4 separate regions of the Homo sapiens genome follow, and all the other regions are linked to region 4. The links come from fine-mapping of genetic effects on gene expression. A gene starts in region 4. Each other region holds a variant in brackets. All regions are shown on one strand. Distances are from middle to middle.

Region 1 (7,954 bases), 100 kb before region 4:
CTTAAATTTCTTCCAACTTTAAGTTTCTTTAAGGGGTCTGGGTAGAAGCTTTTACTAGTAACAGATCACTTAACTTTGCATTTCAATTCTTTCACAGCAATTAAAACATCCAAATCTTGTGAACCTCATCGAGGTGTTCAGGAGAAAAAGGAAAATGCATTTAGTTTTTGAATACTGTGATCATACACTTTTAAATGAGCTGGAAAGAAACCCAAATGGGTAAGTAATCTGGAAACTGAAATTCTGTACAGCCAGTTCTCAGTTTCATTTTCTGTGGAATTAACCATGGCAAATTTCAAATCCCAGCCACAATTCCCCTTTCTACCACAATGCATCTGGCTACCCCATCCAGTCTCAGGATGTCTTCAAAAGGCAAACAATGATTTACCTATAGGAGTTATAATTAGGAGAAAAACCTACCACAGATATAAAATCAAAATGAATTTGAGGCTAAATTATGTATTGGATTATCTGAGTTCAAGGAATGAACCATGGTTTGATACTAGGAAACCTATTCATATAATTCACTAATAAGATAAAAAAATGTACGATTGATAAATTTGAAAATTTGAAATGTTGATAAATTCAACATCCTTTCCTGATTTTTTTTTAATCCCTAGCATCTAGGATTAAAAGAATAGTTTTTTTTTTTTGAGATGGAGTCTTACTTTGTTGCCCAGACTGGAGTGCAGTGGCGCGATCTCAGCTCACTGCAACCTCCACCTCCTGGGTTCAAGCAGTTCTCTGCCTCTGCCTCTGCCTCCCGAGTAGCTGGGATTACAGGCACACACCACCATGCCCGGCTAATTTTTGTATTTTTAGTAGAGACGGGGTTTCACCATCTTGGCCAGGCTGGTCTTGAACTCCTGACCTCATGATCCACCTGCCTCGGCCTCCCAAAGTGTTGGCACACACACCCCTCTTCAAATCAACTGCCAATGTTATACTCAATGGTAAAACTAAAAGAACTTTCATTAAAGTGAGGAAACAAGACAAGGATGTCAGCTGTCACCACTATAATGCAACGTTGTTCTGAGAACTCTAGCCAATGTAATGTAATAAGAAAAACAAAACATAGCTTTTGGAAATGAAATAAAATTGTCATTATTTGCAAGATATTACTGATCTACAAAATCTAAGAGAACCACCTAAAGAGTTATTAAAACCAGTGGAATTCAGTACAGCGACCCCTATAACACGACAGATTCCACATGCAAAAATTAACAGCATTTGTATCAAACAACACTTTAGAAAATCTAACAGAGAATGGCTGGGTGCAGTGTCTCATGCCTTTGGGAGGCTGAGGCAGGTGGATCACTTGAACTCACGTGTTCTAGACAAGCCTGGCCAACATGGTGAACCCCTGTCTCTACTAAAAAGATAAAAATTACCTGGGTGTGGTTGTGGGTGCCTGTAGTCCCAGCTACTCGGGAGGCTGAGGCACGATGATTGCTTCAACCCAGGAGGCGGAGGATGCAGTGAGCCGAGATCACACCACTGCACTCCAGCCTTGGTGACAGAACAAGACTCTGTCTCAAGAAAAAAAAAAAAAAAAAAAATTAGTGGAGAAGGATCCCATTCAAATATTAACAACAACAAAAGTTTAGGAATAAAGATAAAGAGTTGTTCTGACTCTGCATGAAGACAACTACAAAACTGAGATATGTAAGGATTTTATTTAAATGAACATGTTTCTAAATGGAAATATTCATGATTATAAAAATATTGCCTCTACAGTTTATCTGTTTATTAAACAAAATTCTAATCAGAATACCAATAGGGTATTTTTTGAAATTTGAAAAAGACTAAATCGAGAAAAAAGGGACTTTTAACTGTCAAATATTAAATCACAGTAGTTTAAGAGACTCCCTTTGACAAAAAAGTACCATAAACAAAACTAAAATAGAAATGAGATATTGGGTAAACTATTTGCCAGAATGAATAAATTTTATGTCTACCTATGCAGATTTTACAAATAACATTTTTTAAAAGGTTAACATCCAATTAATAAATATATTTATTCAAAAAAAACTTTCATAAATGTAGACTGTGCACCCAGCCAGTGCTAAGTCTACAGCATTGAACAGAGCACACACAGAAAAGGAGCCTCACCTTACCTTCCAGTGAACATGGGAAGCAAATCATTAAAAAAGAGAAGGAGGCTGGGTGCAGTGGCTCATGCCTGTAATCCCAGCCCTTTGGGAGGCTGAGGCAGGTGGATCAGCTGAGCTTGGGAGTTCAAGACCAGCCTGGCCAACATGGTGAAACCCATCTCTACAAAAACTACAAAAATTAACCTAGCCTGTTGTCCCAGCTAGTTGGGAGGCTGAGGTAGGAGGATCACTTGAGCTCAAGAGGTGAAGGCTGCAGTGAGCAGAGATCATGCCACTGCACTCTAACCTGGGTAACAGAGTGAGACCCCATCTCTCTTTTTTTTTTTTTTTTGAAGACAGAAGTCTTCAAAAAAAAAAAAAAAGAGAAGGAAATGACCAGTACATCTAAGAAAACATGCTTATCCTTCCCTATTAATCAAGGAAATTCAAAACTTTTTAGCAAGGTACCATTTCTCATCTGTTAAATTTGGCAAAGATTTTTCAAAAATTATTATACCCAGTCTTATCAACAGTCAGGGAATCAGACCTCCTCATTGATGGCTAGAGAGAGTGCCATTAGGAGGGCAATTTGGCAATATGTATGAAAAAATTTTAACTGTTTTCATCCTTTGATCAAGAGATTCCATTTAGAGAAATTTATAGTAAGAAAATAATCAGATGAGGGCAAAAGTTATACATATGAATGTTCAATACGTCATTATTTATAACAAAAATATTGGACTCCCCTAATTTTCCAACAGTAAATAATTGGTTACAGGCATTTTGGTATATCCATCCATACAATAGTACAATATGCAGCCAGCCCATTAGAGAGCATGCTTTAGAACAATAGTTAATGTCCTGGGGAAATGTTCCTGGGATGATATATGAAAAAATGAGATAACATACTAGAATGTTAAGTATAATTGAAAATTTGAGTTTTCTCAAATTTTCTCAAATTTCTGTGAATGCACATATATTACTTTTAAAATAAAAATTAATATAAAAACAATTAAAATGGCATATTAATTCATAGTTAAACTTTATCCTGCACTAAATAGGATGTTGTATGTTGACTTAGAAGACAGATATGTTCAGCCATTCTATAAATTAATTTATAAATTAACATACATTTTCATGAAGTTAGAAATTTATGCTTACTTCATGTATTGTTCAAGGCCCTGAAACTATTATAAAACATTCAATGCATACACCAGTTTGCTTGACTTGAACATCTTTCTCTTCCCTACTTGTATCCTAAGCTTTCCTGTCTATAGACTTAGCTCATGTTCTTCTCATTTTAATCTAGAAGGTTCTAGCCTTTTTCACCTTCACTGTCTCTATCATAATATTTATTTATTTATTTATTTATTTAGAGACAGAGTCTCACACTGTCGCCCAGGCTGGAGTGCAGTGGGGCGATCTCGGCTCACTGCAGCCTCTACCTCCTGGGCTCAAGCTGTCCTCCCACCTCAGCCTCCCAAATACCTGGGACTACAGGGACCCGCTACCATGCCCGGCTAATTTTTGTATTTTTAGTAGACACAGGGTTTTGCCATGTTAGCCAGGCTGCTCTCGAACTCCTAACCTCAGGTGATCCACCTGCCTCAGCCTCCCAAAGTGCTAGGATTACAGGCATGAGTCCCCACACCTGGCCTATCATAATCTTTAAAATGTGAAATCCTAGATATTTGTAACATCTCTAAGTTTCCTTCATCTGGATGGAATTTCTTCCTTCCTTTGAATCCCCATTGAATTTTATTTTCATCCCTGTTGTGGTACTTGGTATTTATACCGTATATGTTTTTATGTGCATACTCTCTCTCACTAGAGTATAAGTTTTTTGAGGGCATACTTCATGTCTCATTGATCTTAATGGCTTCCTTATGCCTAGCATTCTTTCGCTCAAAAAATATTTCATGGAGCATTTTACACTGGTGCAGAGGATACAGTTATAATGATACAGTCCTGCCCTCAAGAAGCTTAAAATGTGATGAAGAGACAGATATTCAAAGTAACAACTACAAATGGTTATGTTGATTGGGTTAATGTTGATGCAAGGGATGCACAAGAGAAGCAACTCCAACATCTGTTGACCCCGGGAAGTGAGGGAGATTCTGCAGAGAAGGCAGCATTTGGGCTTTGAAAAGGAAGAGGAGTTGGCCAGATGGACACCCCTGGCGGAATGCAGAGACACAAGAAAGAGCAAGGCATGTTCAAGCAACTCCTCTGTTGAATATGTGTTTTGCAATGCCAGGGACCTCTGAACTATCCCACTTTGCACTCTTAAGTTTTACAAATGTGCTTAGCACTGCTGGTGTTCAGTAGTGCGTTGCGTCAGCCCTGAGACTTCAATCTATTATGCATGGAGTAATGCAAATAGGAACAATCTAGAATATGCTGCTCTTTTATGAAATGTTGGGTACTTCTAGATAACAATGATTAATTTAAAGCATTCATCTACTTGTACTCCCTTCCTAAAATCTATTTAAATAACAGGCCAGAGAGTATTTTTAAAGGCCTAAGCCCAGTGAATAGCAAACAGAGATAAACAACCAGCTAGTATACATACCAAGCCTTTTGGACTATTGTTTACTAGAGGAAACACGTAGGATAAATAACTGGTGTGTGGGCATAAGATCATCAATGTGGACGGGCGCAGTGGCTCACGCCTGTAATCCCAGCACTTTGGGAGGCCGAGGTGGCTGGATCACAAGGTCACGAGATCAAGAGCATCCTGGCCAACACAGTGAAACCCCATATCTTCTAAAAAATACAAAAAAATTAGCCAGGCGTGGTGGCGGGCACCTGTAGTCCCAGCTACTTAGGAGGCTGAGGCAGGAGAATGGTGTGAACCCAGGAGACGGAGATTGCAGTGAGCTGAGATGGCACCACTGCACTCCAGCCTGGGCGACAAGAGCGAGACTCTGTCTCAAAAAACAAAAACAAAACAAAAAAAAAAACAAAAAAAAAAAAAAAAAAAAAAAAGATCGTCGATGTAGTGAATGCGGATTGAGCCATGGGATGGTGAGATAATGAAGGGACCCAACGACTAAATTACAGCATAAAGAAGAGTTGGGCCAGGCGCAGTGGCTCATGCCTGTAATC[C/G]CAGCACTTTGGGAGGCCGAGGAGGGCAGATCACTTGAGGTCAGGAGTTCAAGACCATCCTGGCCAACATGGTGGAACCCTGTCTCTACTAAAAATACAAAAAAATTAGCCAGGCGTGGTGGCAGGTGCCTGTAATCCCAGCTACTCGGGAGGCTGAGACAGAATTGCTTGAACCTGGGAGGCAGAGGTTGCAGTGAGCCCAGACCATGCCACTTCACTCCAGCCTGGGCGACAGAGCGAAACTCCATCTCAAAAAAAAGAAAAAAAAAACCAGAATCTCGAATAAGTTGTGCCCATATTGTTATAATCAGCCCAATCTAAAGTCATATTTCTTCCCCTCTGGTCCAACACCCATGAAATCCATTTCTTCATACATTCCCCGTTATAAATCAGCAAAATGTTGTAGTTCTTTTTGCTATGTAAATCTCCTCTTCCTCTGTTTCACTTTGTTATAGGCCCCCTGGGTCATGCTGGGATCTGACTTTAGTTAAGGTTTGGAGACCTTGAGGGGAGGTGGGGAGAGGAGGCTTGAAGAGAGCGGGCATCCCCACAAAATGCACCTGCCTCAGGTGAGATCTGAGAGTCTGCAGCAAGGCAGAACCAGCCTTATTGTACAAGTTTGGGGGCTACTTCCTATGAGAAGAGAAGTTTGGAAGGAAGTTAGGGTGCTCTTAGTTACATGAATACTTTCAAGTGTCACATTCCAATTCCTGGACTATTTTTCCTTCTCATCTCATTAACTGAGAAACTAATTATCCTCACATAAATTCAGTCTTTGTTGTCATTGAGCACCCTGCAGGGTTATTGTCTGTGTCAGTGTTTTAGTAATCTCATGGAGATCCCAGTGGATCTGTGAAGTGGGTCCTACAGAAACAAGAAGTAAGGGGTTCTTTTAGGGTCGATATCAAAATGCCTGACGTCCTAACTGTGCCTTGAACCAAGATATTAAAGCTCTGAACCTGTGCTTTTTTTTCTTTAATTTCTCCAGTGAAGTTAGAAGCAACCAGACCACCTCACATGTCTGTTACTACTTATGTTCCCCATATTGTTCTATCACACTTAGTTCACCAAAGCCTTGCCTTGAATAGGCATTTTATTCCAGATGGCCTCAGGTGATTATTTAAATTCCCTTTTCAGGCCAAGAACAGTGGCTCCTACCTGTAATCCCAGCACTCTGGGAGGCCGAGGCAGGCAGATTGCTTGAGGTCAGGAGTTCAAGACCACTCTGGGCAACAGGGTGAAATCCCGTTTCTACTAAAATACAAAAAATTAGCCAGGTGTGGTGGCAGGCACCTGTAGTCCCACCTACTCAGGAGGCTAAGGCAGGAGAATTGCTTGAACCCAGAATGCAGAGGTTGCAGTGAGCCAAGATCATGCCATTGCACTCCAGCCTGAGTGACAGAGCGAGACTCTGTCTCAAAAAAATAAATAAATAAATAAATAAATAAATAAGTACCTGTTTCATTACTGAGTGGCCATCTGCCAGCATCCCAGCCATTAATGGTAATTAGATGCTGCCCTTCCGTCCTCATTACATCAGATATCCAATCCTAGATTCTCACAGCCTTGGATTGTTTCCCACATCCACTTCTTTTACCATGTCCTGAATTGGTCAGGATTCAACAACAGAATTCACTCTAGCTAGTTCAGAGAGAAAGAGATTTGTCACAGGGTTTTAGTTTATAAAATTTCTGGGAGTGCCAGAGAAACAAGCTTAATTGAGCTCCTATTAGGTACCAGGTCCTGTTCTAGGTGCTGGGGCTATAATAACGGACAAGAGAAAGTCCTTGCCCTTGTGCAATTTACATTCTGATGTAGTCCAACAATAAAGAAGAGTTATGAGTCTTTGAAGAAAAATAAAGCACAGTGTGGAGTTAGAGAATGCCCAGGAGGTGTATTAGTCAAGGTTCTTCAGAGAAACAAAACCAGTGGGATACATAGAGGTACTGATAACAGGAAATTTATTATTGGTATTGACTCATGTGATTATGGAGGGAGAGAAGTTCCACAATCTGCCATCTGCAAGCTAGAGAACCAGGAAAGCCGATGGTCTAATTCAGGCCAAGTCCTAAGGCCCCAGAGGACAGAGAGTTTCAAAGTCCAAAGGCCTGAGAGCCAGGAGCTTCCACATCCAAGGGCAGGAGAAGATGGACGTCCCAGCTCAAGGAGAGAGAAGCAGCCCTTCCCCTACCGTTTTGTTGTATCCAGGCCTTCAACGGGTTTGATGATGCCTGCCTGCCTGCCCTCACCTTTGTGGGTGGGTCTTCTTTACGCGGTCTACTGATTCAAATGTGAATCCCTTCCAGAAACACCCTCACAGACACACCCACAAATGATGTTTTGGGTTTTTTTTGTTTTTTGAGAGAAGGTCTCATTCACTTGTCTCACTCTCTGCAGTGGCCTGAACATGGCTCACTGCAGCCTCAAACTCCCAAACTCAAGCAAATCCTGCCTCAGTCTCCTGAGCAGCTGGGACCACAGACACTCACCATTATGTCTGGCTAATTTTTAAACTTTGAGTAGAGGTAGGGTCTTGCCATGTGGCCCAGGCTGGTCTCAAACTCCTGTGCTCAAGCAATCCTCCTGCCTCAGCCTCCCAAAGTGCTGGGATTACAGGCATGAGCCACTGCACCTGGCAGAAATAATGTTTTAGCAGCTATCTGGTCATCCCTTAACCTAGTCAAGTTAACACAGAAAATTACTCATAACTAAAAGGAAGTAGAAGGAACAATAAACTGTTAATAGAAGTAGAA
Region 2 (7,954 bases), 78 kb before region 4:
TGTTTTGTTTTGTTTTGTTTTGTTTGAGACAGTGTCCAGAGTCTTGCTCTGTTGCCCAGGCTGGAGTGCAGCGGTGTGATCTCGGCTCACCGCAAACTCCACTTCCTGGGTTCAAGCAATTCTCCTGCCTCAGCCTCCCAAGTAGCTGTGACTTCAGGAACCCGCCACCACACCCAGCTAATTTTTAAATTTTTAGTAGAGATGAGTTTTTGCAATGTTGGCCAGGCTTGTCTTGAACTCCTGAGCTCAAGTCATCTGCCTGCCTCGGCCTCCCAAAGTGCTGGGATTACATGTGTTAGCCACCACACCTGGCTATGTGAATAAGTTCTTTGGTGGTGATTTCTGGAATTTTGGTTCCCCCACCACCTGAGCAGTGTACACTGTGCCCAATGTGTAGTCTTTTATCCCTCACCCGCCGCCCGACCCTTTCGGCTGAGTCCCCAAAGTCCATTGTATTATTCTTATGCCTTTGTGTCCTCATAGCTTAGCTCCCACTTATTGGAACATAGATGTTTGGTTTTCTATTCCTGAGTTATTTCAGGAATAATGGTTAGAATAATGGTTAGAATAATGGTCTCCAGTTCCATCCAGGTTGCTGCAAATGCCATTATTTTGTTCCTTTGTATGACTAAGTAGTATTCTGCGGTATATATATACCACATTTTCTTTATCTACTTGTTGATTGATGGACATTTGGGCTGGTTCCATATTTTTTCAATTGCAAATGTGCTGCTGTAAACATGCGTGTGCAAATATATTTTTTATATAATGACTTCTTTTCCTCTCGGTAGATACCCAGGAGTGGGGCTGCTGGATCAAATGGTAGATCTACTTTTAGTTCTTTAAGGAATCTCCACACTGTTTTTCATAGTGGTTGTATTAATTTAGATTCCCTCCAGAGTGTAAAAGTGTTCCCTTTTCACCACATCCATGCCAACATCTGTAGTTTTTTTTTTTTTATTTTTTTGGTTATAGCCATTCTTGCAGGAGTAAAGTGGTATCACATTATGGTTTTGATTTGCGTTTCCCTGATAATTAGTGATGTTGAGCATTTTTTTCATGTTTTTGTTAGCCATTTGTATATCTTCTTTTGAGAATGTCTATTCATGTCCTTAGCCCACTTTTTGATGGGATTGTTTGTTTTTTCTTGCTGATTTGAGTTGCTTGTAGATTCTGGATATTAGTCCTCTGTTGGATGTATAGATTGTGAAGATTTTCTCCCACACTGTGGGTTGTCTGTTTACTCTGCTGATTATTTCTTTTGCTGTGCAGAAGCTTTTTTAGTTTAAGTTCCATCTATTTATCTTTGTTTTTGTTGCATTTGCTTTTGGGTTCTTGGTCATGAGAAGTCTTTGCCTAAGCCAGTGTTATCTTCTAGAATTTTTATGGTTTCAGGTCTTAGATTGAAGTCTTTGATCCATCTTGAGATGATTTTTGTATAAGGTGAGAGGTGAGGATCCAGTTTCATTCTTCTACATGTGGCTTGCCAATTATACCAGCACCATTTGTTTAATAAGGTGTCCATTCATCACTTTATGTTTTTGTTTGCTTTGTCAAAGATCATTTGACTATAAGTATTTGGCTTTATTTCTGGTTTCTCTATTCTGTTCCATTGGTCTATATGCCTGTTTTTATACCAATACCATACTGCTTTGATGACTATGGCCTTATAGTATAGTTTGAAGTCAGGTAGGATAATCCCTCCAGATTTGTTCTTTTTGCTTAGTCTTGCTCTGGCTAGTGGGCTCTTTTTTTGGTTCTATATGAATTTTAGGATTGTTTTTTCAAGTTCTGTGAAGAATGATGGGGGTATTTTGATGGGAATTGCATTGGATTTGTAGGTTGCTTTTGGCAGTATGGTCGTCTTCACAATATTGATTCTACCCATCCATGAGCATAGGATGTGTTTCCATTTGTTTGTGTCATCTATGATTTCTTTCAGCAATGTTTTGTAGTTTTCCTTGTAGAGGTCTTTCACCTCCTTGGTTAAGTATATTCCTAAGTATTTTATTTTTTTGCAGCTATTGTAAAAGGGGTTGAGTTCTTGGTTTGATTCTCAGCTTGGTTGTTGTTGGTATATAGCGGGGCTACTGATTTATGTACATTAATTTTGTTATCCTAAAATTTTGCTGAATTCATTTACCAGTTCTAGGAGCTTTTTGAAGGAGTCTTTAGGGTTTTCTAGATATATGATCATGTCATCAGCCAACAGCAAAAGTTTGACTTCCTCTTTACCAATTTAGATGCCCTTTATTTTTTTCTCTTGTCTGATTGCTCTAGCTAGGACTTCCAGTACTATGTTGAATAGAAGTGGTGAAAGTGGGCATCCTTGTCTTGTTCCAGTTCTCAGGGGAAATGCTTTCAACTTTTCCCTATTCAGTATAATGTTGACTGTGGGTTTGTCATCAATGGTTTTTATTACCTTAAGATATGTCCCTTCTGTGCTGATTTTTCTGAGGGTTTTCATCATAAAGCAATGCTGAATTTTGTCAAGTGCTTTTTCTGCATCTATTGAGATGACCTTGTGATTTTTGTTTTTAATTATGTTTATGTGGTGTATCGCATTTATTGATTGCAGATGTTAAACCATCCCTGCATCCCTGGTATGAAATCCACTTGATCATGGTGGATTATCTTTTTGACATGCTGTTGGATTTGGTTAGCTAGTATTTTGTTGAGGATTTTTGCATCTATGTTCATCAAGGACATTGGTCTGTAGTTTTCTTTTTTTGTTATGTCCTTTTCTGGTTTTGTTATTAGGGTGATACTGTCTTCATAGAGTGATTTAGAGAGGATTCCCTTTCTCTGTCTTTTGGAATAGTGTCAATAGGATTAGTACCAATTTTTCTTTGAATGTCTGATAGAATTTAGCTGTGAATCTCTCTGGTCTTGGACTTTTTTTCATTGGTAACTTTTTAATTATCATTTCAATCTCGCTGCTTCTTATTGGTCTGTTCAGAGGTTCTATTTCTTCCTGGTTTAATCTAGGAGAGTTGCATATTTCCAGGAATTTATCCATCCTCCTCTAGGTTTTCTAGTTTATGCACGTAAAGGTATTCATAGGAGCCTTGAGTGATCTTTTGTATTTCTGTGGTATCAGTTATAATATCTCCTGTTTCATTTCTAATTGAGCTTAGTTTGATCTTCTCTCTTCTTTTATTGGTTAATCTTGCTAATGGCCTATCAATTTTATTTATCTTTTCAAAGAACCAGATTTGTGTTTCATTTATCTTTTGTGGGTTTTTTTTGTTGTTTCAATATCATTTACTTCTGCTCTGATCTTGGTTATTTCTTTTCTTCTGCTGGGTTTACGTTTGTTTTTTTCCTCTTTCTCTAGCTCCTTGAAATGTGACCTTAGATTGTCTATTTGTGCTCTTTCAGACTTTTTGATGTAGGCATTTAATGCTATAAACTTTCCTCTTGGCATTGCCTTTGCTGTATCCCAGAGGTTTTGATAGGTTGTGTCACTATTATTGTTCAGTTCAAAGAATTTTTAAGTTTCCATCTTGGTTTCATTGTTGACTGAACAATCATTCAGGAGCAGGTCATTTAATTTCCATGTATTTGCATGGTTTTGAGAATTCCTTTTGGAGTTGATTTCCAATTCTATTCCACTGTGATCTGTGAGAGTTCTTGCTATAATTTCAATTTTCTTAAATTTTTTTATTTTGTGGCCTATTATATGGTCTATCTTGGCAGATGTTCCATGTGTTGATGAACAGAATGTATATTCTGCATTTATGGTGTAGAAAGTTCTGTAAATATCTGTTAAGTCCATTTGTTGTAGGATATAGTTTAAGTCCATTGTTTCTTTGTTGACTTTCTGTCTTGATGACCTGTCTAGTGTTGTCAGTGGAGTGTTGAAGTCCTCCACTATTATTGTGTTACTATCTCATTTCTTAGGTCTAATAGTAATTGTTTTATAAATATGGAAGCTCCAATGTTAGGTGCGTATATATTTAGGATTGTGATATTTACCTGTTGGACTAGTTTTTTTTTTTTT[A/TTA]TCATTATATAATGTCCCTCTTTGTCTTTTTTAACTGCTGTTGCTTTAAAGTCTGTTTTGTCTGATATGAGAATAGCTATTCCTGCTCACTTTTGGTGTCCACTGGCATGGAATACCCTTTCCCCCCACTTTACTTTAAGCTTATGTGAGTCCTTATGTGTCAGGTGGGTCTCATAAAGACAGCAGATACTTGGTTGGTGAATTTTTATCTACTCTGCCATTCTGTATCTTTTAAGTGGACCATTTAAGCCATTTACATCCAACATCAGTATTGAGATGTGAGGTACTATTCATCATGCTACTTGTTACCTGAATACCCTGGGTTTTTTTCATTGTGTTGCTGTTTTATAGGTCCTGTGAGATTTATGCTTTAAGGAGATTCTATTTTGGTGTATTTCAAATATTTGTTTCAAGATTTAGAGCTCCTTTTAACAGTTCCTATAGTGCTGGCTTGGCATTGGCAAATTCTCTCAGCATTTGTTTGTCTGAAAAAGACTGTATCTTTCCTTAATTTATGAAGCTTAGTTTCACTAGATACAAAATTCTTGGCTGATAATTGTTTTGTTTAAGGAGGCTAAAGATAGGACCTCAATCCCCTCTAGCTTGTAGGGTTTCTACTGAGAAATCTGCTGTTAATCTGATAGGTTTTCCTTTATAGTACCTGATGCTTTTGCCTCAGAGTCCTTAATATTCTTTCCTTTGTCTTGATTTTAGATAACCTGATGCCTATGTGCCTAGGCGATGATCTTTTTGCAATGAATTTCCCTGATGTTCTTGGGATTTGGATGGCTTCTTGTATTTGGATGTCTAGATCTCTAGCAAGGCCGGGGAAGTTTTCCTCAATTATTCCCTCAAATATGTTTTCCAAACTTTTAGATTTCTCTTTTTCCTTGGGAACACCAATTATTCTTAGGTTTCATCGTTAAACATAATACCAAACTTCTTGGAGGCTTTGTTCATTTTTTTAATTCTTTTTTTCTTTGTCTTTGACAGATTGGGTTAATTTGAAAGTCTGGTCTTCAAGCGCTGAAGTTCTTTCTTGAACTTGTGCAGTTCTGTTGCTGAGACTTTCTAGTGCATTTTGCATTTCTCTAAGTGTGTCCTTGATTTCCAGAAGTTGTGACTGTTTTTTTATTTATGCTCTCTGTTTCACTGGAGATTTTTCCATTCATATCCTGTATCATTTTTTTATTTCTTTAGGTTGGACTTCATCTTTCTCTGGTGCCTCCTTGATTGGCTTAATAGTTGACCTTCTGAATTCTTTTTCTGCCAATTCAGAGATTTTTCTCCTGGCTTGGATCCATTGCTGGTGAGTTAGTGTGATCTTTTGGAAGTGTTAAAGAACCTTGTTTTGGGCCAGGCACAGTGGCTTACGCCTGTAATCCCAACACTTTGGGAGGCCAAGGTGGGCAGATACCTGAGGTCAGGAGTTCGAGACCAGCCTGGCCAACATGGCTAAACCTTGTCTGTACTAAAAATTCAAAAATTAGCCGGGCGTGGCAGCACGTACGTGTAGTCCCAGCTACTTGGGAGGCTGAGGCAGGAGAATCACTTGTACCCAGGAAGCAGAGGTTGCAGTGAGCCAAGATCACACCACTGCACTCCAGCCTAGGTGACAGAGCAAGACTCCGTCTCAAAAAAAAAAGAACCTTATTTTGTCATCATGTTACTGGATTGTTTTTCTGGTTCCTTCTCATTTGGGTAGACTATGTCAGAGGGAAGATCTGGGACTTGAGGGCTGCTGTTCAGATTCTTTTGTCCCATGGGGTGCTTCCTTGATGTGGTGCTCTCCCCTTTCCCCTAGGGATGGGGCTTCCTCAGAGCCAAACTGCATTGATTGTTATTTCTCTTCTGGATCTAGCCACCCAGAGAAGCTACCAGGCTCTGGGCTGGTACTAGGAAGTGTCTGCAAAGAGTCCCGTGATGTGATCCATTGTCAGATCTTTCAGCTATGGATACCAGCACCTGCTCTGGTAGAGGTAGCAGGGGAGTGAAGTGGACTCTATGAGGGTCCTTGGTTGTATTTTTGTTAAGCACACTGGTTTTATGTTGGTTGACTTGGTTGTATTTTTGTTATGCGCACTAGTTTTATGTTGGTTGACCTCCAGCCAGGAGCTGGTGCTCTCAAGAGCACATCAGCTGCGGTAGCATAGGGTGGATCAGGCAGTGGGTGGGGCCATAGAGCTCCCAGGAGAATATGGCTTTTGTCTTCAGAGCTCCTTGGCTGTCCCACAGAGCCTGCAGTGGTAATCCACCTTCTTCAAAGGGTCTGTGGATTCTCTTGGCTTACCTGGTATGTTCCTGTGGTAGTTCTTGGAGCAAAAGTTCATGATGTAAGTCTCCACACGCTGCTCTGTCCGTCTGAGTCATAGCTGCAAGTTAGTCCTGCCTCCTATCAACCATTTTCCTCAGAAGCCATCAGAATAGACATTTCTTTAAAGAAGATATATAAGGCAGGGCGCAGTGGCTCAAACCAGTAATCCCAGCTAACTCAGGAGTCTGAGGCATGAGAGTCAGTTGAACCCAGGAGACAGAGGTTGCAGTGAGCCAAGACTGCACCACTACACTCCAGCCCAGGCGACAAAGTGAGACCCTGTCTCAAAAAAAAAAAAAAAAAAATTAATTAAAAATGTAAAAAATAAAAAGTAAAAAAGAAGCTATACGAATGGCCAATAAGCACATGAAAGATGCTTATGGTAATCATTAGGGATATGCAAATCAAAACCACAGTTAGATACCACTTTGCACCCATTAGGATGACTATTATTTTTAAAAAACACACAGAACAAAATAACAAGTGTTGGTAAAGATATGAAGAAATTAGAGCCCTCATTCATTGCTAGTGGGAAAGTACAATGGTGCAACTGCTGTGGAAAGCAGTATGGCAGCTCTTCAAAAAATTAAACATAGAATCACTGTATGATGCAGCAATTCCACTTCTAGGTACATACCCAAAAAAATTGGCAGCAGGGACTTGAAGATATTTGTATGCCAATGCTTATAGTAGGATTATTCACAATGACAAAAGGTGGAAACAACCCAAATGTCCATCAAGGATGAGTGGATAAACAAAATGTGGTATATACATATAATGAAATCTTACTCAAAAAGAAATGAAATTCTGATATATGCTATGACATGGATGCACCTTGAAGACACTAAGCTGAGTGAAATAAGACAGACAGAAAAGGACAAATATCGTATGATTCTATTTACGTGCTCTACCTAGAATAGTCAAATTCATGGAGACAAAAAAGAATAGTGGTTATCAGGGCTGGGGGAAGGGAGAATGGGGAGTTGTTGTTTAAAGGATACAGAGTTTCAGGCTGGGATGATGGAAAAAACTTTGGAGGTGCATAGTGGTGATGATTGTGCAACACCGAATGTACTTCATGCCACTGAATTGCACACTCTTAAATGGTTAAATGGTAAATTTTATATTATGTGTATTTTACCACAAAATAAATTTAAGCTCCTCCTATATATAGATATATAGATATACACAGAGAGATAAAAATTTTAAAGTCAATAACCAAAGGAGAGAATATTTCAAAATTGGTAATAGGTTGATAGATAAGAGCTTATATAAATTGGTTTAAAAGAGAACCACAAAAGCTCTGAATAGAAAAATTAGCAAGATATTGACAGTTCACAGATGAAAGAAAAGGCTAAAAACATGAAATAATCTTCCTCTTCACTGATATCAAATAAATGCACATTAAAATACTACTCTTCACCAATGAAGCTGGCAGAGTATTTTCTGTTTGTTTGTGTGTGTGTTTGTTTTGAGACAGAGTCTCACTCTGTCACCCAGGCTGGAGTGCAGTGGCATTATCTCAGCCCATTGCAACCTCCACTTCCAGGGCTCAAGCAATCCTCCCACCTCAGCCTCCCAAGTAGTTGGGACAACAGATATACTAATTTTTGTATTTTTGTATTTTTGATAGGGCT
Region 3 (7,954 bases), 93 kb before region 4:
TCCCCCATCATGTTACCCTATCTTGTTAGCCCATTCAGACTTGAACTGTGATGTCTCATGTTTGCTTTAAGGCCTTCATTACGACTTTTAGTATTACTTTCAGTGGCAAGAACCTCGGTTACTTTTGTACCAACCGAATATTTGGTTTTGCACTGGCCCAAAATATAATATTTAAACACTGAGCATCTTTTGATTTCACCAGAGGTTCATTTTGCTCCAAGATGCTTTGAAAAATGCTGCCTGTGGCTGAATGGTGCTGCAGCGCTCTATCTTTCTGGACTGGGCGCCGCGTCGATGTGTACTCTCTTTGATGGTTATCTTCTCTTTGCACGATCTGTGGTGTTGGTTTGTGGTTCTCTTTGATGGCTATCTTCTCTTTGCACGATCAGTGGTGTTGTTTTGCCCCTGACGGAATCTGCCTTCTTGGAAGCTAACTGAACTGAATATGACACTTCCTGTGAGATGCCTTTAAACATCCTCTTTCATGTTAAAGTCATCTTTAACATCCTATGAAATTACTTTCCTATGAAATTACTTCATTCTCCATTCCCTGTTATTAAGGCTAGTAATTGGCGTTTTGCAGTTTCTCAATCCTAGCCCCTACCTTGTTTCCCAATTCCAGTACTTACTCTCCTGCACCTGTAGGCTCTTAGATCCCAACCAGACTAGCGTTCTGTTCCCATGTCAGCAGGAGCATGTACTCCACCCTCGCTAGTCCCTCTCAAGGACTGAAATCCATTTCCCTTCCTCTCACTGCTGCCACCATAATCTAAGTGTCCAAATCTCACTTGGGTTATTGAATTAGCCTCCTAATTTCTCTCTCTGTATGTATGTTGCCTTCCCAGAAATCCATTCTCCATATTATGTCACTTCCTTGCTTGATTTCTTTCAATGGTTTTGAATTTAGCATAAAATCCAAATTTCTTATTGAGATCTAGATCTCCGAGGCCCTCCATGGACTGATTTCTGCCAACCTTCCTGGCTTCTTCACTCAAGTTTCAGCCACCCTGGCCTCATACTGCTTTCCCCACACCTCCAGTTCTTTCTCTCCTCAGGGCCTCTTGCTATTCTGCACCTCTTCCCTCTTTGTACAGGGGTCTCAATCCCATCGACTGGCCTTATCTAATCTCAGACCTGTATCTCCAGAACTCATGTGGGTGTTAAAACCAGACATTGAGGGGATAGATTACTCAAATAACTTATAAGATATTATTCTAGTATTACACATGAGGAAAATTGAAGGTGCAGAGAGCTTAAATAACGTGTTCAAGATTATAAAGTAGGAAGCAGCATATCTGGGATTTGAACTCAAGCAACCTGTCTCACAGTGCTCAACATGGCTATACTATTCTTCCTGCCTCATATTTTGAAAGTGTACGCAATGTTGTTTCAGGTTTGGCTCTAGGTGAAGTGGGGAGAAGAATACAGTTATATCAGTATTCAGTGCTGGAAATAGACACTTCAAGTCGAAAGGGATTTAATCATGAAAATTAGGTACATTTGCAATATTAATAATTAGGAGAACTGGGGTCAAGGGTTGCCACTGGGCCACTGATGTCAAGGACATGCCACCATAATTGTGGTACAAGATCAGGAAACTGCTCTGAGGAAAATACCGTGTACATCACTTGCTGTTTCTCTGCATATACTTCAGACTCTTGTAGCTAGTGTCATAACTGAGTCATGCCTAGGCCTTCCCACTGTTCTGTAAAGTCAGCTACATCTGCACATGTTCAATTTTTAAAAAGTGATCTAAATATATGATTTAAATATCCAAATATGATAAAATATTAAATCTGAGTGATGGATATGTTTGGGGTATTACATAATATAATTTTTTTAAATTAAGAAAATCCTTACAGTTGACATTTAGTAAAAGAAACTCTTATGTTTCAGATTTTTGAAAAATATACAAACAACAGCCGCATCTCCATCAACAGGGCTGAAAGACAAACAACACTGAGCAAAATATTTGCAGCATATATAACAGACCATGATATACATTGAGTCTTTGTAAATCAATAATAAAACAGTGAACAGACCAATTTAAAAAGCAATAAAGGCATAAAATGGAATTACACAAAAGAAGAAATGTAGTATCCAATAAGGGTGTGAAAAATAATAATCACTAAACATTAGTAAAATGCAAATAAAAACCACAGTGAGACATCTTTTTATTTTAACCACAGATTGGCAAACATAACATTGGCAAAACCAAATGTTGGCAAGACAATGAGGAGACAGGGACTTTGATGCACAGATGTTTGGTGGGAGTGAAAATGGGTATAACCTTCCTCAGAAAGGGTAGTTTGGCAGTGTGTAAATGTGAAGGCATCATCATGGGACAGTGATGTGAGTGATGGAAAGCTACCAACAGAAAAGTTACAGAGAATGTAATTGCTATAATTCATGGAGATGTTACATAAAGTAGAATACTCCCAGAGTAAGTTTCCCAGACCCCCAATCCCCAGTGGAAAATACACCTGCCCATGATACTTCCCAGTATTTTCTATACAGAGGGATGAGTCTGCCAGGGACAAGAAGCTTACACCCTCTCATTCTTATGGGATCCTTATTCTCCCTGGCCGCCTTTTGGGCTATCTGCTTACAGGGACAAGTAACTATTACAAAATAACTTGAGTGTCTACCACCATGAATTAGATAAATTGAAGAGCCATCTTCCAAGTATACCTTTTTTCCTGCAAAACCAAGTCTCCGGTCTACCTGAATTTCATCCATGCAGGATCGAAATGTAATGGGTGCCTACCATTGGTCTCAGAAATCCCACTTCTAGAACTTACCTTAAGAAGGTAATTGTGTAAATATCATAAGATGGATGATTACAGATATTCATTGAAGACTTTCTAGAAACAAAAATTGGCTGAACTTAACTGCTCATCAATAGAGACTAAGTAAATTATGATATATCCATATAATGATCTCCTCTGGAGCCTCTAAAATATATGTGTACATGTTGGTATTTGTACCTCTATGCATAAAATTCTCAAAGTGGTCAGGGGTGAAATTGAAGAAAATAAATGGGTGGCTAGGCAGGTGTCAGAGAGACTTCATGTATATACTTTTATATGTTTAAAATTTGAACCATACGAATGTTTTTATTTTAAAATTAAAGTTAAAAAGTAAATACTGGCCGGGCATAGTGTCTCACACCTGTAATCCAAGCACTTTAGGAGGGCGAGGCAGGTGGATCATCTGAGGTCGAGAGTTCAAGACCAGCCTGGCCAACATGACAAAACCCCGTCTCTACTAAAAATACAAAAATTAGCCGGGTATCGTGGCACGTGCCTGTAATCCTAGCTACTTGGGAAGCTGAGGCAGGAGAATCAAATTTCTTGAACCTGGGAGGAGGAAGTTACAGTGAGCTGAGATCATGCCACTGCACTCCAGCCTGGGTGACAGAGCCAGACCCTGTCTCAAAAAACAAAACAAAACAAAACAAAACAAAACAAAACAAAACAAAAAAAGTACAGAGAGAGACAGGGAGAGAGAGGAGCAGAGATGCCTGAAGAGAGCCACCAGAAGTTATAGCAGTTATTTTGGGGTAGCAAGATTTGACCCAACACATTTTATTCCTTTACTTTTCTTTTTTTTATTCCTTTCCTTTTCTTTTTTTTATTCCTTTACTTTTCTATATTTTTTGAATCTTCATAAGCATGCATCATTTTATGGATGTAAAAAATTCAAATTACAAAAGGAAATTACATAACCATAATAAAAAGATAGTAAAGCCCAATTTTCACTAAAATATATTTTTAGGACCCTTC[C/G]GCATGGTGTTCCTTGAAGAGGACAGTCCCTCACCACTCCACTTCTATTCCCAGCCCTTGCTTCTGGAACTCTATCCTATGAGTTTTCATTTCCTTTTTTATTTTTTCCCTCAGAGTTGCTGATGGAGTGATCAAAAGCGTATTATGGCAAACACTTCAAGCTCTTAATTTCTGTCATATACATAACGTAAGTAACATTTTCTAATGTATTTATTCATTTCTTCATGATGACTCTTTTCTTCTAAATAGCTCAGGGTTTTGTTTGGAGAGCTGAAGACAAAGGGAAAGTAAGAGCCAAAGAAGCAAAACAAAAGGAAGTTCAGCCAGTAATCCCAGCACCTTGGGAGGCTGAAGTGGGAGGATCACATGAGCCCCAGAGTTTGAGACAGGCCTGGGCAACATAGCAAGACCCTGTCTCTGCAAAAAAGAAGAAAAGGGAATAACAAAAGAAAGTTCAAAATATGAGAAAAAAGTGATGCATTATTCATGGCTCTTTCCAATTTCTGTAAGAATCAAATTGCTAATTCCTTATGAATTAAAAATTTGAATAAATATAATGATTCCTTTTGCCATAGTGCCAGTGACCCCTGAAACTATTTTTAAATTGGGCGAGAATAATTTTTCAGGGCCGGTATGGTGGCTCATGCCTGTAATCCCAGCACTTTGGGAAGCCAATGCGGGCAGATGGCTTTGAGCTCAGGAGTTCAAGACCAGCCTGGGCAACATGGAGAAACTCTATCTCTATGAAAAAATATAAAAATTAGCCAGCCATGGTGGTGCGCACCTGTAATCCTAGCTACCTGGGAGGCTGGAGCTGGAGAATCACTTGAACCCAGGAGGCAGAGGTTGCAGTGAGCTGAGATCACACCACTGCTCTCCAGCCTGGACAACAGAGTGAGACCCTGTCTCCAAAAATAATAGTAAGTTTTCAGGATATTGCTGATGTAATCCCCCATGGTACTTTTTTTTTTAACTATTATTTTTAAGTCTCTTAAGTCCTTTACTCGATAGCAATCTAAGTGCCCCTTTCCTTTCCTTTTTAAAAACCGTTTCCGGCCGGGCATGGTGGCTCACGCCTGTAATCCCAGCACTTTGGGAGGCCGAGGCAGGCGGATCACGAAGTCAGGAGATCGAGACCATCCTGGCCAACACGGTGAAACCCTGTCTCTACTAAAAATACAAAAAATTGGCCGGGCATGGTGGCGGGTGCTTGTAGTCCCAGCTACTCGGGAGGCTGAGGCAGGAGAATGGTGTGAACCCAGGAGGCGGAGCTTGCAGTGAGCCGAGATCGTGCCACTGCACTCCAGCCTGGGCGACAGTGTGAGACTCTGTCTCAAAAAAAAAAAAAAAAATTCATTAATTTTTTATAGCCGTAGTTCTCAAGCTTGAGCATGCATCAAAATCACAAGGAGGGCTTGTTAAAACACAGCTTCCTGGGCCCCACCCCCAGAGTTTCTGATTCAGTCAGTCTTGGGTAGGGCCCCAAGAATGTGCATTTCTCATATTTTCCCAGATGCTACTGAAGCTGTTGGTTCAAGAACCACTATGTTAGAGAAATAATTTTGGCTGACTTTTTCTTGTATGTAATTTAACGTGTTCTTTCACTTGTATTTCCTGTAAATTGGAGTTTATATCTAGAGGCTTGATCATATTCAGGTTCAGCTTTTTTTAGTTAACAATGCCTGCTATGTGGTGCTGTACACTTCATATCGCATCCCCATTATGAGGTGTATAGCATCCACTTGTCCCACTTTCGATAATGTTAAAATTGATGAGTGGGCTCAGGAGGTATTCGTTTGGTCCCCTCCATTATCATTTTCCCTGTCAACGTTGTTTCCCTGATGGTTTTAGCATCCAGTGATGATTATTGCCTGTATCTAGTATTTCGTGACAGTAATTTTCTAATTCTGTTATTCCTTCTGCATTTAATAATTGGAATTGTATGGAAAAGAACTCATCCTCATGGACTCTGGTTACTTTTATTTATCAACACTCAGGGTGATGAGATGATATCTTAGCAACAATGACAAGTTTTGGGGAGAGGTGGCTGGAGCACCATTATAAACACAAATTTTGTATTGTGGTGTTTTCAATTCTTTGCTGTCATTGGTCTCTCCCATGCTCAGATTTTCCCATCTTAGGCCAACATGAGCTTCTTCAAGTTGGCTCCTGGTACCTTTGCTATATATCATTATATTTTTGGGACAGTCTCGCTCTACTGCCCAGGCTGGAGTGCAGTGGTGTTATCATAGCACCCTTGAGCCTCAAACTCCTGGGCTCAAGTGATTCTCCCACTTCAGCCTCCCTGAGTAGCTGGGACTACAGGCACATGCCACTACACTCAGCCAATTTTTGTTTTTGTAGAGATGGGGGTCTCACTATCTTGCCCAGGCTGGCCTCAAACTCCTGCCTTGGCTGCCCAAAGTGCCAGGATTACAGGTGTGAACCACTGCACTCAGCCAATGATAGCTTTTAAAAAAATATATCTAGCCCTTTTGAGTTGGTGCCTAGACAGAGACAGTGCTGAGGCAATGATACAGAGTACCATATGGTCAGTTTTGATGCCAGCAGAATGTCTATCATAGCAGTCTAGGATTGCTGAAAAAGAAAGTACAAGATCATGAGAATACATTTCAATACGGAGGGGAAGCTTTCTTTAGTTTTAGGAAAGTCAGTGAAGTTTTTATTAGGTTAAATCAAAAGCTTTTATTTTCTATTAATGTAGAGGGATATTTTTCACAAAATACATAAACCTATTTTTCATGATGCAAATTGTGCTTTCTGATGCTTAATAAAGATGATGCCAAATGGAATCCTTATCTCTGTTGCTTTCCACCATGCTATAGGAGATATCAAAGTTGCTGCAGGAGTTTTATGGGTAGTTAAAATGATTTCTAAAAATACCACTTACCACAAGTGTTTATACTTTATCCCTATATAACCAGACACTTTCCTGGGTACTTGGTTATAAGCTTGAATGCAATGTCTGTGGCTGCTTTATCTTTGTATCTCTTTAATACCTAAATTGGATATTTTTATATACAGGGTGATCAATAAATATTTATTGAATAACTGGATGGAGGGATGGGTGGATGGTTGGATGAGTCAATCAGTCAGTCAACCCAAACTGCCTAACTGATTGTGACTATTTCCAGTGGAGCCAAACATTATTGTAGACCAACGCAACTGCCATCATTTCTGTGCTTGGAACAACACGTTCTATACCCTAAGCTTTAAAACACTGAAAACTTCTGACTGATAATATGTGGCCTCTATTAAAAATAGGTAATTTTTCAGGCTAGGTGTGGTGGCTCAAGCCTGTAATCCCAGGACTTTGGGAGGTTGAGGTGGGCAGATTGCCTGAGGTGAGGAGTTCAAGACCAGCCTGGCCAACATGGTGAAACCCTGTCTCTACTAAAAATACAAAAATTAGCCGGGCATGGCAATGCATGCCTGTAATCCCAGCTACTACTCAGCAGGCTGAGGTGGGAGAATCACTTGAACTCGAGAGGCAGAGGTTACAATGAGCTAAGATCGGGCCACTGTACTCCAGCCTGGGCGACAGAGCAAGAGTCTGTCTCAAAAAAAGATAATTTTTCAGACTAACTTCCCTCCTCCAAGATGGAAATTACTTCTCATTTTCTTATGGTAAGCCTTTGTGTATCTGCCTTTTTATTTATCTATAATTAAAATGCTTGCAAAGAAAAAAATCTAAGCCATATATAAAGCTGTCACAATAATACAACTAAAACCTTTATACTCTCCTTATTTTTAAAGGAACTCCCATGATAGTCTCAAAGAGTAGAAAAGGCAATCTGACCTAGTGGTGTTGCTGACGACTCACAGCTTTAAACCTGTAGAGACCATGTGCACCTTATCATCTCCAGAGTCGAGATCCTAAACAGGACACTGCAGGTTAAAGTACCAAGGGATTCAGGCCTTGCTACTCCAACTATGGTTCATAGAGATCACCTGGGAGCTTTTAGAAATGTTGAATCTGAGGTCCACTACAGACCTGCTGAATCAGAGTCTGCATTTTAACCAGAGCTCCAGGTGATTCATGTGCACATTAAATTTGGAGAAGCGCAGGACTTAAGAAAATACGTATTCATTTGGTTCTCTTTTACCCTATAATATCACTAGAGTGAGGTAACCAAAGTGGTCCATTT
Region 4 (7,954 bases):
GGGGGATTGGTGGGCGACACTTTTACGTCTACACGTGCCTACCCGTCTGCACGTTTCTGAGTCCGCACGGTTGTCTTCTCTTGCTGAATGGACATAGGTGTTTTGTTTTGTCCCAAGAGATACAGGCAAGCAGTACAGGGGTGATGGAGTGCTCCTTGACCTTAGCGGGGCTGACCCTGGCACTCCCTGTAGGTCTCCCCGCTGCGAAGCACTGAGTCTCTTCACTGCAGTTTCTCTCCAGTTACCCGCCCTGTCTACGGCCCAAACGGCCATGCTAGTGAAAACCTGCCCTGGCCGCTAAGCAAGCCTAGCCCAGGCTGTAACCCATGTTTCTAGGGCTTGTTTTCCTCTGCAGTCAAATCAGAGATTCGGAGTTGAAGGGGATCTTAGAGGTCAACATGCCCAACCTCTTAGCCCGAGTGAGTGAATGTACGCTTTTTACCTGCACACCCCGAAAATCGCCCGTTTTCTGGAAACAACGTTGATTATGTAGTCCTGGAACTTTCCTGCATGCACATTTTATTCCTTCGACAATATTTATTGCTACCTACTGTGTGCAGGCATTGTAGGCCCCGGGGATACGATTAAAACCAATGAAGAACGAAACGCACAAGATTGTTGATCTCGGCCGGGCGCGGTGGCTCACGCCTGTAGTCCCAGCACTTTGGGAGGCGGAGGTGGGTGGATTGCTTGAGGTCAGGAGTTCGAGACCAGCCTGGCCAACCTAGCGAAACCCCACCTCTACTAAAAATACAAAAATTGGCCGGGCTTGGTGGCGTGCGCCTGTAGTCCCAGCTACTCGGGAAGCTGAGGCAGGAAAATCACTTGAACCTGGGAAGTGGAGGTTGTAGTGAGCCAAGATTCCGCCTGCATTCTAGCCTGGGCAACAAAATGAGACTCTGTCTCAGAAAAAGAAAAAAAAAAAAAAAAGATTGTTTCTCTCTCTCTAGGAGTTTACATTTTATTTGGGGGCAGGAGGGAAACCAACAACCAAAAATAGAGGACTGATTTGATTTAGTGCTAGCAGGAAATAAAAAGAACATAAGGTAGAAATACACAGGTGAGAATTACTTGGAGTGATCGGAGAAGGCCTCTTGGAGGTGGTGATGTTTATAACCAGCCAAGGGAACAGTTAGGGGTTCTAGGCTGAGAGAAGAACAATGTTCTTTAGGCAGGTTGTTGTTTTCTAGGAATAGACAGAAGGCTACTGTGACTGGAGTGTGGTGAGGCGAGGTTGTGAATGGTGAGAAAACATTGAGAATGTGAGCAGGAGCCAGATGCACGCCTTTGTGGGGTACGGTAAGAAGTTTGAAATGTATTCTAAGAGCAATGGGAAGCCAAGCAATAGTTTGGGGTACAGGCTTGATGTTGGTTCATTTGGAACCATACAAACCAATCTCTTCCCCCATATCACAACCCTTTAAATATTTGAAGAGGGCTGACCGGGCGCGGTGGCTCAGGCTTGTAATCACAGCATTTTGGGAGGCCGAGGCGGGTGGATGACGAGGTCAGGAGTTCGAGACCAGCCTGGCCAATACAGTGAAACCCCATCTCTAATAAAAATACAAAAATTACCTGGGTGTGGTGGCAGGCGCCTATAATTCCAGCTTTCATTCCACACACTTTGAAAGTGGGGAGTTTTTCAAATGTAAACCAAGTATGTATATTTTTATTTTTTCAATAAAACAATAAAGATGGGTCTCGCCAGCCTGGTCTCAAACTCCTGAACTCAAATGGTCCGCCCACCTCGGCCTCCCAAAGTGCTGGGATTACAGGCGTGAGCCACTGCGCCCGGCCGGTCTGTGTGTATGTGTGTGTGTGTGTGTGTGTGTGTGTATATTTTTTTTTGAATTGAAACGGAGTTTTGGTTTTGTTGCCCAGGCTGGAGTGCAGTGGCATGATCCCGGCTCACTGCAACCTCTGCCTCCTGGGTTCAAGCGATTCTCCTGCCTCAGCCTCCCAAGTAGCTGGGATTACAGGCGCCCACCACCATGCTCGGCTAATTTTTGTATTTCTTATGGAGACAGGTTTTCACAGTGTTGGCCAGGCTAGTCTGGAACTCCTGACCTCAGGTGATCCATCCGCCTCGGCCTCCTAAAGTGCTGGGATTACAGGCATGAGCCACCTCGCCTGGCCGGCCTGTGTATTTTTAAAGGAAATAACCTAAGAGTTGTTTTTCCAGATTTTCAAAGAGGTCCTGTAAAGATTAAGAACCACTGAACCTTTCTCGTTTATGTGATCCTGGTTACTGTTCTCAGGAATAGCAGGACACAATGTCAGCTTTAACCCAGGCTAGTTCCTCTAAACTGCCTTCTTATCGGTGAAATGAAAATAATAGGGTTGCTATGGGGATTAAATGAGATGATACTCAAAAAAATGATAATTAATGATAAATCATAAGGTGTCTGCCACAAAGTGCCCCTATTATAAACAAACAGTGGCCTGGAGGGACAGTTTATAAATACTGCTCCTTTAGCATTCCACTAACATTGACTGAGTGCCTGTTCTACACTGTGTAGAGGCCCTGGTGAAAAAGATCTGCCTTCCAGTTTATTATCTAGTCGAAAGAACCGCAAAAGATAACAAAACACAATAGACTGAACGCCCTGAGAGGGGCATAAGTGCAGTGCTCTAGGAGCTGTAAAAGAGGTCTCGATATCCACTGGAGGAAAGTGCTTACTGGAGTTCATTTCTGGAGTGGGTTTAAAAGATGAACAGAGGGAATCTAAAACATTCACACAAAATCAATACTACACGTACACATTTTATTATTTTGTGGAAAGACCACTTAGAAACACCGCAATCACTTCTACTACTCAGCAGATACTGAGCAGTAGGTTTCGTGACAGAGCACCTGTCTTTTGTCCAGTCTGTTTACTATACATTGCGTGCTCTGGGCAGTCCTTATCTTCGTGTTCAGGAACAAAGTACACACACCCCTTTCCGAAACGAAGGGCCCAGGGACTCCGAGAAGGGTGGGAGCCCTCACGGCCAGGCCACACAATGGGGAGCCTCTTTACCCTAGTCATCACCCACCCTTGCAGGCCCCACTTTGCCAGGGTGCGACTTCTCGGGCCCCTTCGCCCCTCCCCTGCAGCCCCCAGGAGCGCAGCCACAGCCCGGCCGGGCGCCCTCCCTGTCTCTCTCTCTCTTTCTCTCTCGAGCTTTCCTCCTCCTTCACCGGGAGCCGGAAAACCCGGAGCGAACCAGCCCAGCACGGCAGCGCATGCTCAGTAGCGAGCAGGTTCAGTTCGCTAGTAGGAAGCTCCAGCGCTACACCGGCGGCGGCGGTGGCGGCGGCGGCCGCGGCGGCACCTCAGGGCAGCCAGATTCCCCAACAACGACCTCCGGTCCTTCCCCTTCCCCGCGAGACCTCCGCCCCAGCTCCGCCCCGCCCGGGGCTCTTGCGTTTCGGAGTCCCAACTACGCGGAGCGGGCGCCGCGGCCGGAGCGTCCCTCCACACGTCCTCCCCCAGCCGCCAGCTCCGCCGCGGGGCCAGACCGGGCCCGGGAGTGCAGCCCCGGCGGGCGGGCGGCGGCCGCGGCAGAGGGCAGCCCGGGGCGGCGCCGGCGGGCCGGGGAGGGGCGGGGGGCCTGGCCCCGGGGCGGTGGTGCGGGATGCCGCCGCCTCCGGGCCGCGTCCGTTCTCCACGGCTGGTACCTGTGTCGGGTGGGTGGCCAGGCGCGGGCCTCGCCCCCCAGCCCCCTCGCCAGGGCTAGCCCGGCTGCGCGGCGCCCGGAGGGGGCCGGGCCGTCCGGTGGGGCCGCGGCCCTGTTCCGCGCTGCGAGCTCGCCCTCTCGCGGCTCCCTGGCCCGGCCGCCGCCGCCCCTCTCCCCGCCCAGAGGCGCCCCGGGGGCACCATGCAGGCGCAGCAGCTGCCCTACGAGTTTTTCAGCGAAGAGAACGCGCCCAAGTGGCGGGGACTACTGGTGCCTGCGCTGAAAAAGGTGAGGAGCACGCGGGACCCCGCTTCCCGGCCGCAGCCCCCCAGCGCGGGCGCTGGGGAAGGGCTGGGGAGGCGGGGCGCGCGCAGGGCCGTCTTTCTTCCCGGTCTCGCCGCGTCTCCAAAAGGACGGCGCACACGGAGAGGCCCCCCTCATACGGCTGGCTCTCGGTGTTGACATCCACCGGGTGTGTGGGAATGCCGCAGGGAGCCGGGGGGAGTTTATCCGGATAATCCAACCCCTGAGAGGTGAATGCTTTGCCCTTTGATTCCAGGACAACAACAGTTGGAGGAGCCTCAGTTTTCAGCGGAGGTCAAAGCAGGCCACTTTTCCGTCTTCTTGGTCTTAGCCCGGAGCTGCTGTCAGCCTACCGTTTTAGGTGTCCAGTACGCTGGTTTTAGTGGCTTGAGAATGCCCTGGCCGTAAGGCTTGCTCAAAGGAATTGCGAGCTCGCCTGCCAGTAGGAACGTGGCCTGCTCTGCTCGCCGTCAGTATTCACTCCTCATTCTCCTGGTTTCCCCCGCTCCTCCGATTAACAGGGGCTGGTGCACATGCTACCAATTTCAGGGGGGTTTTGTTTTGTTTTTGCAGCGTTCGAGATTCTTGGTGCTGTCATTTGGCTTGTTAAGAATTTTTAGCCTTTGTATGTTTAAGTTTGCTACATTGTTACCTGAAGTTACATACCCCCGATCTGTGCTTTTAAATGTTTTAGTATAATTAGGAAGTGTTCTTACGTTTTTAAAGCTTCTAAAGCAGCAGTGTGACAACCAGACTATTTTTGTTTTCTTTTCTTCATTTACCTTTTCTGTAAAGATTGCTTTACTCTTCTAATAGTGTTTCTAAATCCCAGTTTCTTGCTGCTCAAAGAATGTTTCATGCTAACTGCTTCTACTAAGAATGGAGATTATGTTTTACCTTTTATGCTAAACATTAAAAGGTGTCTGATATTTCTCAAAGGCCAGTAACTTTTACTTTCCCTTTTGCCCTGTTCTCCTCCGGTCCCTCTTGCTGTCTTACAGTGGAAACTATTTGGTTTTTCAGGAGAATTTGCTCATATATTTCTGGCTTAAATTACGGACATTTTCCCCTTCAAGTGTCTGACTAGTCACAAACATCTATGTAATTTTTTTTAAAAAACAGAAGAAAAGATGCCATATATCTTACATACTTTACTCCTTAGAAATCCCTTCAGGCTCTCACTCCTTACTTTTGCTTTACTTGCAAGTTTGACTTCTTAGCTTGTAATGGAAGGGGTGTAGGAGGTCTCTGTGATGCTAGAAGCTGGTGTCCGGATAGAGTAAGGGGAGACACGGAAATTGTTTAAAAACGTGTAAAGGAACTCATAAAGCATTGCCAAATAGGGGCCATTTTGCTTAGAGGCAAAAGCAGCTCCTTTCCCAGGGGAATCACCAAGGTATCAGCTGAGGATCCTTTGAAGCAGTGGAAAGAATATTGTAGGAGTTGACAGACGTTGTTTAATTCTGCCACACTGGTGGCCCTTGCTGAAATCTGTCCACAAAAGCATTTTGTTTGGCTGGCATAGTGTTGTTTTATTTTTAAATGTAATTAGTTGCTAATATTTGAAAATGGGAGATATTACATAAAACCTGAATTTTCGGCTTTTCTTGAAGAATAGGAAGGTCTTGTCATTTAGGGCCTGTATTCAAGCGAGGCACTAAACTGCTGGAGTTGAGTAAATGGCTCCCTTCTTTAGACAGGTCATGTATCTCCACCTTACCACAGCCCCCACTTGTCCTTTTTGCATATTTACATAAAACAGCTTTTGACTTTAAGTTAGAGATACTTTTGCAGTAGAAGTGATAGGAGGAGGTGGAAGTGTACATAATCTAGCTGATATGTAAGGTTCTTCCAATTCTTATTTAAATAGCCACTAACAATGATTCTAAACAAGATTGAAAATACAGTATGTTTCATATCTGGATATGCTGTTGGTAGCTCAAAACCTACGTTTTTACTTGCCTGCTGGACATTTCATGTGGATATCTCCATATCTTGATTTCTTCCTTTGATTTGTTATTGAATTATTCGTAGATACATCCGACTTGTGTTCTCTTACTCTTACCTGAGGCTCTTTGGATATGCTAGTCCCTTCATCCTTCTTTGCCTGGTCCAACACTACTCATCCTTCTAGACTCACTCAACCTGAACTGTCAAATCATCAGGGCTGAGTTGGATATTACTCCTTTGTTTTCTTTTTGCACCCTGTCCTAGCTCTGTGAATTTTAAGTTCCTATTTACTTGCCTATAACTAGATTGGATGCTCCTTGAGAACAGGGATGATATCTTACCCACATTTTATTCCCCATACTTATAGTGCTTGACATCTGGTAGGCACTCAATTTGAATAAATAGGTGAGGGGATATACAAACTAAAACTATCACTTCTCTCCTCCACCTGTCATTTCAGTTTTTCTTCTCGATTAATGGCTTTATTGTTACATTTGACTGGTTTAAAATGTTGGGGTCATCTCTGGCTTCTTTGTATTACTGTGCACACTCAGGTAGAGCCTGTATGTTCATTTCCCTTTGACATGTTCTTCTAGTCTATTCCTCCTCCGACTTCTCTAATTGAGTCTCCTTTGTCAGACTACTGTGATAACTTCTTAATGGGGTTCACTGGCCCCCACCTCACCTTCTGTTTTTCAAATCTCACCAGTTATAGGACACTTCTGAACATGTCACACTCAGAATTGTTGATGTCTTTTGAGTTCAACCTATGCTAAAGTGCACTTTTTAGCATAGAATTAACAGCAATTGATATTTGGCTTCATCCTGCTTTTCTGACTGGATTGTCTACCATAACCTTTTATCTCCTTTTTGCTTTAGCCAGTCCGGACTGCTACTTTTCCTGAATATGGCTGGAATGTCCCACTGTATCTGTTTCACCGCATCTATGAGTCTAAGTCCTATCTTATCTATTGCACAAATATATCATGCCTACTATAGACCAGGTATTGCCCTTGACACTCAGGCTAAAAAGGTAAATGACAGGGCCGGGCGCAGTGGCTCACGCCTGTAATCCAGCACTTTGGGAGAGCAAGGTGGGCGGATCACGAGGTCAGGAATTCAAGACCAGCCTGGCCAACGTGGTGAAACCCCATCTCTACTAAAAAATACAAAAATTAGCCTGGCGTGGTGGTGGGCACCTGTAATCCCAGCTACTCGGGAGGCTGAGGCAGGAGAATAGCTTGAAACCGGAAGACGGAGGTTGCAGTGGGGCGAGATTGCACCACTGCACTCCAACCTGGGCAACAAGAGCAAAACTCTGTCTCAAAAAAAAAAAAAAAAAGTAAATGACATAATCAGAAAAGACTAAATTAGAACATGATGGGAAGTGGCAGGGCATGTCTGGAGAGACAACTGGTTTATGAACAGTTTTTATATATGTTAAGCTAAGGAATTTAAATTTTTTCTTGGGTAATTAGAAGCCATTGATAAAGTTTCTTTTGTTTGTTTTTGTTTTGTTTGTTTGTTTTGAGACAGAGTCTTAACAGGCTGGAGTGCAGTGGTGCGATCTTGGCTCACTGCAGCCTCCACCTCCTGGGCTTAAGCTATCCTCCCACCTCAGCCTCCTGAGACTGTAGGCACACTGCCACATCCAGATAATTTTTGTATTTTTTGTAGAGATGGGGTTTCACCAGGCTGGTCTTGAACTCCTGGGCTCAAGCCATCTGCCTGCCTCAGCTTCCCAAAGTGCTAGGATTACAGGGTGAGCCACTGTGCCCAGCCAATAAGTTTTAAGTAGGGGAGTAACAGCACATTTTAATTTTAGAAAATTCACTTTGGCCATAGAATGGAAAATGGTTTGGAGAAGAATGAGACGTAAAGTGAGGAGAAAAGTTAGAAGCCTAGTTTAATAGTCCAGTCAAGAGATAATACACATTTGAACTAAGGGTGCATTTGAACAAGGATGGAAATATGGATGTGGATTTTATTTGAAAGAAGTTTACAAGGCAAAATTGACAGGATCTAGTAACTCACTGAGTGA

Direction of the effects. Alleles are on the strand shown, and positions count from the first base shown. SD is a standard deviation of normalised expression in the study named. Not every link is listed here.
For the expression in testis of the gene that starts at base 3,233 in region 4, G is the low allele of the variant in region 1 and C is the other (moderate effect, 0.50 SD a copy in GTEx).
With allele A in place of TTA in region 2, the expression in naive CD8 T cells of the gene that starts at base 3,233 in region 4 is lower (large effect, 0.84 SD a copy in Schmiedel 2018).

Evidence for each region. PIP is the estimated chance that this variant, and not a neighbour inherited with it, causes the effect.
Region 1: its variant is the best candidate, but not a certain one, in a credible set for the expression of SOS1 in testis (GTEx, PIP 0.60).
Region 2: its variant is the best candidate, but not a certain one, in a credible set for the expression of SOS1 in naive CD8 T cells (Schmiedel 2018, PIP 0.88).
Region 3: its variant is the best candidate, but not a certain one, in a credible set for the expression of SOS1 in whole blood (INTERVAL, PIP 0.84).

Annotation. Positions count from the first base shown.
Region 1 is chr2:39,218,104-39,226,057 of GRCh38, reverse strand. CDKL4 (cyclin dependent kinase like 4) reads left to right here. Exons shown (of 10, transcript NM_001397900.1): 3 at 98-219. Among named protein-coding and RNA genes, the nearest start is that of CDKL4, 22 kb to the left of the region's middle. RefSeq lists an enhancer at 5,803-6,304. The variant C/G (reference allele first, on the strand shown) is at 5,202.
Region 2 is chr2:39,194,310-39,202,263 of GRCh38, reverse strand. All of the region lies in intron 5 of CDKL4 (cyclin dependent kinase like 4), which reads left to right. Among named protein-coding and RNA genes, the nearest start is that of CDKL4, 46 kb to the left of the region's middle. The variant A/TTA (reference allele first, on the strand shown) is at 4,004.
Region 3 is chr2:39,209,418-39,217,371 of GRCh38, reverse strand. CDKL4 (cyclin dependent kinase like 4) reads left to right here. Exons shown (of 10, transcript NM_001397900.1): 4 at 3,900-3,972. Among named protein-coding and RNA genes, the nearest start is that of CDKL4, 31 kb to the left of the region's middle. RefSeq lists a silencer at 7,638-7,838. The variant C/G (reference allele first, on the strand shown) is at 3,786.
Region 4 is chr2:39,116,330-39,124,283 of GRCh38, reverse strand. SOS1 (SOS Ras/Rac guanine nucleotide exchange factor 1) reads left to right here and starts at 3,233. Exons shown (of 23, transcript NM_005633.4): 1 at 3,233-3,948. The coding sequence starts at 3,862. RefSeq lists enhancers at 87-236, 267-436, 4,284-4,363 and a silencer at 3,364-4,083.